2 linked regions of the Homo sapiens genome follow. The protein of the gene in region 2 purifies or fractionates together with the protein of the main gene of each other region. This does not show direct contact. Each region holds a gene or a part of one and is shown on either strand. Other genes may lie near its edges.

Region 1 (3,500 bases), on a different chromosome or scaffold from region 2:
ATGCAGTGCTTGATTTTCAGTTCCCGTGTTAATTTGCTTAGGATTATGGCCTCCAGCTGCATCCATGTTGTTGCAAAGGACATAATTTTATTCTTTTTTTTTCTTTTTTTTTTTGAGATGGAGTCTTGCTCTGTCACCCAGGCTGGAGAGCAGTGGCGCAATCTTGGCTCACTGCAAGCTCTGCTTCCCGGGTTCAGGCCATTCTCCTGCTGCATCCTCCCGAGTAGCTGGGACTACAGGCGCCTGCAACCACGCCCGGCTAATTTTTTGTATTTTTAGTAGAGACGGGGTTTCACCTTGTTAGCCAGGACAGTCTCGATCTCCTGACCTCGTGATCCGCCCACCTCAGCCTCCCAAAGTGCTGGGACTACAGGCATGAGCCACCGCGCCCGGAAATTTTATTTTTTTTATGACTATGTAGTATTCCATGGTGTATATGTACCACATTTTGTTTATCCAGTCTACTATTGATGGATACCTGGGTTGATTCCATGTCTTTGCTACAAGCAAGAAAACAAAGAACCCCATTAAAAATGGGCAAAAGTCATGAACAGACATTTATCCAAAGAAGACATACAGGTGGCCAACAAACATATGAAAAAATGCTCATCATTGCTAATAACCTGAGAAATGCAAATCAAAACCACAACGAGATACCATCTCACAACAGTCAGAATGGCTATTATTATAAAGTCAAAAATTAACAGATGCTAGTGAGGCTACAGAGTAATGGGAACATGTACTCTGTTGGTAGAAATGTAAATTATTTCAGCCATTGTAGAAAGCAGTCTGGAGGTTTCTAAAAGAACTTAAAACAGAGCTACTGTTAGACCCAGCAATCCCCCTGCTGGGTATATACCCAAAGGAAAATAAATCATTCTACCAAACCAAATATAGTTTTACTTCTCTTTCATGCTAGATGTCTTATTTCTTTTTATTTTTACTCTTTTCTTCTTTATCTTTCTTTTTTTTTCTTTATTGCACTTGATAAAACTTCCAATACAATGTTGACCTTAGTGGTGAAACCACACACGCTAGTCTTTTTCTTGATTTTAGGAGGAAGTAATTCAGACTTTCACTATTAATTATGTTATTAGTTGTATACTACTTATACATGTTTCTTATCAGTTTTTAGGATGTTCTCTTTTATTATCAGTTTGTTGAGAGGTTTTATCTGAATGGATGTTGATTTTCTTGTTGAATTTTAGGAGTCATTTATAGATTCTGGATATTAATACCTTATCAGACATATAATTTGTAAATATGCTTTCCCATTCTGTAGATTGCCTTTTCGCTCTCTTCATAGTGTTCTTCATAACTTAAAAGTGATTTTTTTAAAGTTTCATTTTGGTAAAGATCTGTTTATTTATTTTTTTCTCACATTGCCTTTACTTTTTGTATCATAGCCAACAAATCACTACCAAATCCAATGTCATGCAATTTTCCCCTTTTCTTCTAGGAGTTTTATATCTTTAGGTCTTTGATTTATTTTTAGTTATAGTGGTTATATGGTATAAGTTATCTATTTTTAATGTTATTGTAGCCATTGTATTATATTGTGCCCTGTTTCACAAACAGTTTGGTAATAAGGGTGAAGAGGTGGCAGAGAGCTGAGGAATGTGCCATTTTTTGCAAACAGTTTGGTAATAAGGCTGAAGACGTGGCAGACAGCTGAGGAATGGACCATAGAGGACAATATTTGTTTGTCTGTCTAACCTCTATTCCTTTTGATTGTTTCTTTATAATAACTTTTGAGGAACCATCCCTACCCTGCCTCATTCCCTGCAGTTGGTTAAAGTAGACAAAATTAGTAGCATTAGGCATGTATATGTTACTCAGTTCTGGCAAATCATTATATCCAACTCTTATATTTTTACCAACTTTACAGTAATTATTTTAAGATATATACTTGACTCAATTGGAGTCGATGGTTTGCATGCCTTAGAATTTTACTGTCATGAGTAAAAAGAGCCGTTGTCTTTTCTGATGGGTATCATATCAGGGATAATAATTTAAACCAGGAGAGTCAAGCTGATGCCATAATTAATCTGAAAATAAGTCAATATAATAGGTATGAAATATAATTTTTAGAAGAAAAACCAGATTCTGATGGCAAGATTTTAGTTTAAAGATGTAGCTATGAGTAAAATTATACTTGACCCCTTGAATTTGTTTTTTAAAAATTTAAACCAGTTTTAGTTGGTTTTGTCAGATATTACAACAACAAAAAAGCTAATACAGGCAGTGAAACTATTTCTGAGGGTGTGAAGTCAACTGGAGGTCAAGTCTTTGTTGGTATAAAGGGGGTCAGATCAGACAGCGGGAGATCAAATATATTGGTACATACTTGTTCAAAAAAATAAAGGAAATAATGGTTATGGTGAGAAAGAAAAGATAGCTAAAAACAGTTAAAAATGTAAACTAGTCTAGGTTAATAAAATGTTGGAATCCAGGATAAAATTTTATAGTTTCAAAGATGATGACTAAGTGGATATTGACACTATTCGGGACAGTGGGGTGTAAATAGTTGGGAAATAGTAAGTTACATTTAAGACCTACTCAGTTACTTGGTCCTGTGGCTTGTTTCATACTGAAAAATGTATGAGATCACCTACAGTGGAGTTTAGTCAGCATACACAGTGAGTACATGGAGGCCAGACAAACTTTTAGTTGAAATGCTTGCTTGCTTTTGCTCACGGCAACAGTACACTTCTTAAGGACTTTTATTATTAATTTTCATCATTAGATCCCTAAAGCCTGAAAAAATATAGGGCAAACGTATTTCGCTGTTTTGTGTCTGTTGATGTATAAAATAAAAACACAATGAATTAATGAGGTTTTCTCATTAAAAATGTATAAAAATATTAGAGCTCCTCCCTCTTTTTAAAATATATTCCTTCTTGAGATACTTGAAGCATCTTCCTAACACCCTCATCTTAGTCCTCTGCAGTGGTCAGTCTGAATCTTATCTCCACACTTTGTCCCCAGTCTGTGACCATCTATTTATTCCCACCATATCCAGGGATAGTAAGAGTGTGGGGAGGAAGGTGGATAAAACTTTGTAAGATAGGAGGGCCTATTACTTTTTTGAGCATTGCTAGACAAAATACAGGATGCTCAGTTAAAGTTTAATTTCAGATAAAAGAAATGTAATATTTTTAGTATAAGAATATCTTAAATATTATAAGGGTCATATATATAACAAAAAATATATTGTTTATCCCAAATTCTAATTGAACTAGCCACTTTTATGTTCTAAATCTGGCAACCCTATCTTGACTCATGTTTTCTATCTTTTCCCCAGGATGTGATTGACGTCATGAAAAGGTATATGTGGAAGAGAGATGTGGTCTTATTTGTCTGAAAAGAGAATTATAGTCCTGAGAGATATCTTCCTTCAATCAGAACAACTTAAAAAATCAAAAGGCTGGGAAATTTGTGTATTAAATTGTCCCAAATTGCTAGTCACAGATTAAAGTTTTCAATTGTAAGAAATTTTG
Region 2 (4,149 bases):
GCTATACATGTATATAGTTAAATAAATCTGCACAAAAGCATTTAAAATGTTTTTCCATTGCTATTTGAAAAAAATACATTTAATTTTACTACATTGAAAATGTATTATTAAAACACACGTATCGAAAACCCGGAATGATGTGTAGTTCTTTAAAGTCAGACAGACCTTAGTTTGAATTCCTGCTCTGCTGCCTAGTAGTTATGCGACCTTAAGTAAACAACTTAATTTTTTCAAAAAGGTTGGTGAGATTATGGGACAATATGATACAGTGCCAGGCATGAAGCACTCAATAAATGGTAGCTATTATTATTTTTCCATACTTTCTTCAAATATCTAAATTCTAACCAAGCTGGATTGTCTTCTTTTACTCCTTCCTCCCCTCCCACCTTCTTCTTTAATATTTGGATCCACTGCTTCTCAACTCTTTTAGGATCAAAAATCCATTTCTAAATGTGACTAAAAAAAAAAAAAGACTATGTACCCAGAAAAATGCATATTTGCATAGAGACCTTTCACATATGTTAGAGTTTCTACCCCCTGAAGCCCATTCAGATTAATAATGGGATGAGAATCCCTCCTTTAAGACAAGTTACACCTAAGCTAATGCTGAATCTTTTATACAAAAAGGACTGAAATAAGCTTCAGTTGCATCTCAGAAGAAATATAAACTCACTATCCTAGAGTTGAAAGAAATGAAAGGAATGAAGAAAGATGGGGAGGAGGCCACAGAAATTTGTTTCTACCTCACTTCTCCCCTTCTCCATATCAGAACCATTAATGCCACGGCAGGCCTTACCCTTAAAAAGAAAGCAGAACAGAGGTTATGGTGGCTACCTAGAAAAGGGTTAACACAGCAGGCCTGAGACTACTGTCCTTAAAAAGGCCTGCCTGTCTTTGGCTGGTATCTGAAAACTTAACTGGTAAACAGTTCCCTACACTGATATAAACCTTTCCTTATATAACAGTGGCTCACTACTGAAGTAATGTGGTTTAATTATAACATATGCTTTCCTTTTGGGAGTATGAAATAATTTTGGTACATGAGGGTGCCGAAATGACTAACCTCCGATGAAAACCTTAGGAGCTGAGTCTCTAACAAGCAGCTTGTTGCTGGAGGAATTAAATGTGCCCAGTAGAGTCTACTGGGAATGAACTAGTGGAAAAACGTGAGCCTGGTTTCCTTCAGACTTCATACCATGTACCATTTCCTTTTGTGATTTTGCTTTATCCTTTCATTGTAATAAATCTTAGTTGTAAGGTGTTTTTTTGTTGTTGTTGTTGTTTTTTTAAATAACAAATCCCTATCACAGCTGGAGCTTTTACAAAGAATCTATTCTCGCAACAAAGAATTTGACCTCACCCTGCTTGGACTGGCTACATTTTTCTCTGCCAGGTCTACTTTGGTCAAAACGAATATGGTTCTCCTTCCATGAGGGTCCATTTGACTGACCAAGTCTGTAACAATACTGCGTTCAGCATCCACAGATCCATCTGAAAAAAATAAAAAAATGACACTGTGGAATTTTAAGATGTAAAGTAGACTTTTAAAACTCAGTACAAATTATACCCCTGTGTCTACATTATAGCAAGAAAGATTTTAATACATTTACGTTATTTACTAAAAAGAAATCCTAGCCGATAAAAATTTCAATGATGCTTATGTAAAACTTATCAAAATAATTTCAACTTCAATTTAATTTACTAATAAAATGAATACGAAGAGAAGGCAAAAATGCATTTATCTTGTATGTTTACATAACACAAACTATTTAATGCAAAGCTTGGATTGCTAAAGAAGAAAACATATCAGTACATTAAAATCTTTTGATATGATTTACCTTGAATACACAGTATGATGGCATTAGGATTCTGCATGTAAGCTTTGCTGATACTGAAAATAGTTTCCTTTGTGTCAGGAGCCATGCCTGATGTCACAGTCTTAAAGAAAAAGGTTTTAAATGTCATTATAAATGCTTCACACAATAAGAATAAAATAAAATACATGTTTTGTATATACTTACATTAATCACACCTGGTAAGTCAACAAGCACCATCCTCTGTAGTCCAGGGCCTTTTACATTTAAGGATATGGTCTACTCAGGAAAAATAAAAATAAAACAATGCTAAAGTTTGGGGGGAATTTGTCAAGAATTTTTTTTGGTGAAATGTATTCTAAAAATTCTATATCTCATCCATTCAGATAAGACGCTCACAAAAATGGTATTCTTTCTCTGATCCTAAAAGTAATTATTCTGGAAAATTACCCACAAAATGATATATTATTTGGATTTTTTTTTAAAAGCTCTACATATCTAGATAGCAGCAATCTAAACATCAATACCTAGATTTTGATTTATTTGAAATCATAAACATTTAATTTCCATAAAACGTCACTGAAATGAATTGCAACCCTTACCTCAGGGCTAACGGTACAGCCTTCTTTCACATTTTTCCTCATTCGAAGTTCTATTTCATGTCTTAATGCTGCAAGCTAATGGAAAACACAAAATCCTAAGAAAATCTAAGAAAATCTTAATTCACAAATATTCTTTAACTGTCTTTTATAAGCTCATCCAGGTTATAAAATTACACATATCAACCTTAGATGAATTTTACTTACATCTTCTTCTTTGGTAAGATCAAACTCCCGAGAACTATCTTTAAATAGGGCCACATGGTGAGGACCTTCACTCAGAGTCACCTGATAGTAACAGAAAACTGAGAGGTAATGATGTATTTATAAGTAATATTAATTCCCACAGCCCGTATGTGGTCTAGACAGGGCTACTGCATTGCACAAATCCAAGAGTCCCTTCACACTACTGCTGGGGCACCCCCTGAAGCTGTCAACATGGTAGTTCTGACAAGACAATAATTTTGTATTTGTATTGTTTGTATATATGTCATATATGTTGTGATTTCCCAACAAGAATGCTGGTTCCTTTATATCGCTTATGACCTAAAATGCTGCTGCCTCTTTCTTTCCCCAGTCAATGCTATACACAGCACTAAGCCCAAAATCATCTCTCTAAAACTTGAAACACTAAAAGGAAACCTTGCATTTAACCTCAAAGATGAATTTAGGTAAAGGACAATTCATTCATTCAACCTCTATAGAGAGTGAACTATGTGTCAGGTGTTGTAGGTGGGGAAACACAGAGCTGACTGTCCCAGTTTTAGACCTCATCACATGCTGGGAGAAATATACACAGACATAATAGAAGAGAGTGACAAAACCTAGGGTGCCACAGAAGAGAATGGAACTGATGATAAGGGAGCTACGACAGGCTTCACTCAAGGAGTGATATTTGGGTAAGAAATTTTGTTTTGTTTGTTTTTTTGTTTGTTTTGAGACCGAGTCTCATTCTGTCGCCCAGGCTGAAGTGCAGTGGCATGATCTCGGCTCACTGCAACCTCCACTTCGCGGTTTCAGGTGATTCTCCTGCCTCAGCCTCCCGAGTAGCTGGGATTACAGATGCCCGCCACCACACCTGGCAAGTTTTTTGTACTTTTAGTAGAGACAGGGTTTCGCCATGTTGGCCAGGCTGGTCTTGAACTCTTGACCTCAGGTGATCCGCCCTCCTCAGCCTCCCAAAGTGCTGGGATTACAGGCATGAGCCACTGCACCCAGCCAAGAAATGTTATAGCAATGTATATTAACAGTCAGTGGTTTCACAAGAACTTCTAAATGCCTAATTGACACCTTTCTAGCTTCTCTATAGTTATTTTACTTTAAAAATACAATTCCTTCTACTGAGATTAGCTAAACAGGCTAAATTTAAAAACAATAAACAGCTGTTGGAAAGCTGTTTAGCTATTTTCCATCAGAGGATTTGCTGATTTGTAGCACAGGGCAAAGGCCCAAGAGAAAAACTTAAAATGTGTAGCAGTTTCACTGGGTTGAGTAGACAAGATTGGAATTCCGAGTTATTAAGTAGTCACGTCTTAAGGTGCCACAATCCCAAAGAAAAATGAACTGCAGAAATAAACCTCCAAAACAAAACAAAACCCTACATCCTGCGCACAATTTCCTTTCACGGCATTCACATTTTAGGAAACCAAGCAGAAAGAAGCTGCTAAGGAGGTTAAAATGCTAAGCTGGGGTTTTGGCACTTTCACTGCTCTAGGGAAACAAAAAACTGGAATTCA

Evidence for each region.
Region 1: the proteins of OPA1 (region 2) and TRIM22 purify together in Homo sapiens (affinity purification with western blotting; one study listed by BioGRID). This does not show direct contact.

Annotation. Positions count from the first base shown.
Region 1 is NC_000011.10:5,703,290-5,706,789, forward strand, and holds part of TRIM22 (E3 ubiquitin-protein ligase TRIM22), read left to right. Parts: intron 1-3,304; coding exon 3,305-3,327; intron 3,328-3,500. UniProt on the Homo sapiens protein: Interferon-induced E3 ubiquitin ligase that plays important roles in innate and adaptive immunity.
Region 2 is NC_000003.12:193,641,317-193,645,465, reverse strand, and holds part of OPA1 (dynamin-like GTPase OPA1, mitochondrial), read right to left. Parts: intron 2,702-4,149; coding exon 2,621-2,701; intron 2,492-2,620; coding exon 2,417-2,491; intron 2,094-2,416; coding exon 2,022-2,093; intron 1,939-2,021; coding exon 1,839-1,938; intron 1,492-1,838; coding exon 1,361-1,491; intron 1-1,360. UniProt on the Homo sapiens protein: Dynamin-related GTPase that is essential for normal mitochondrial morphology by mediating fusion of the mitochondrial inner membranes, regulating cristae morphology and maintaining respiratory chain function.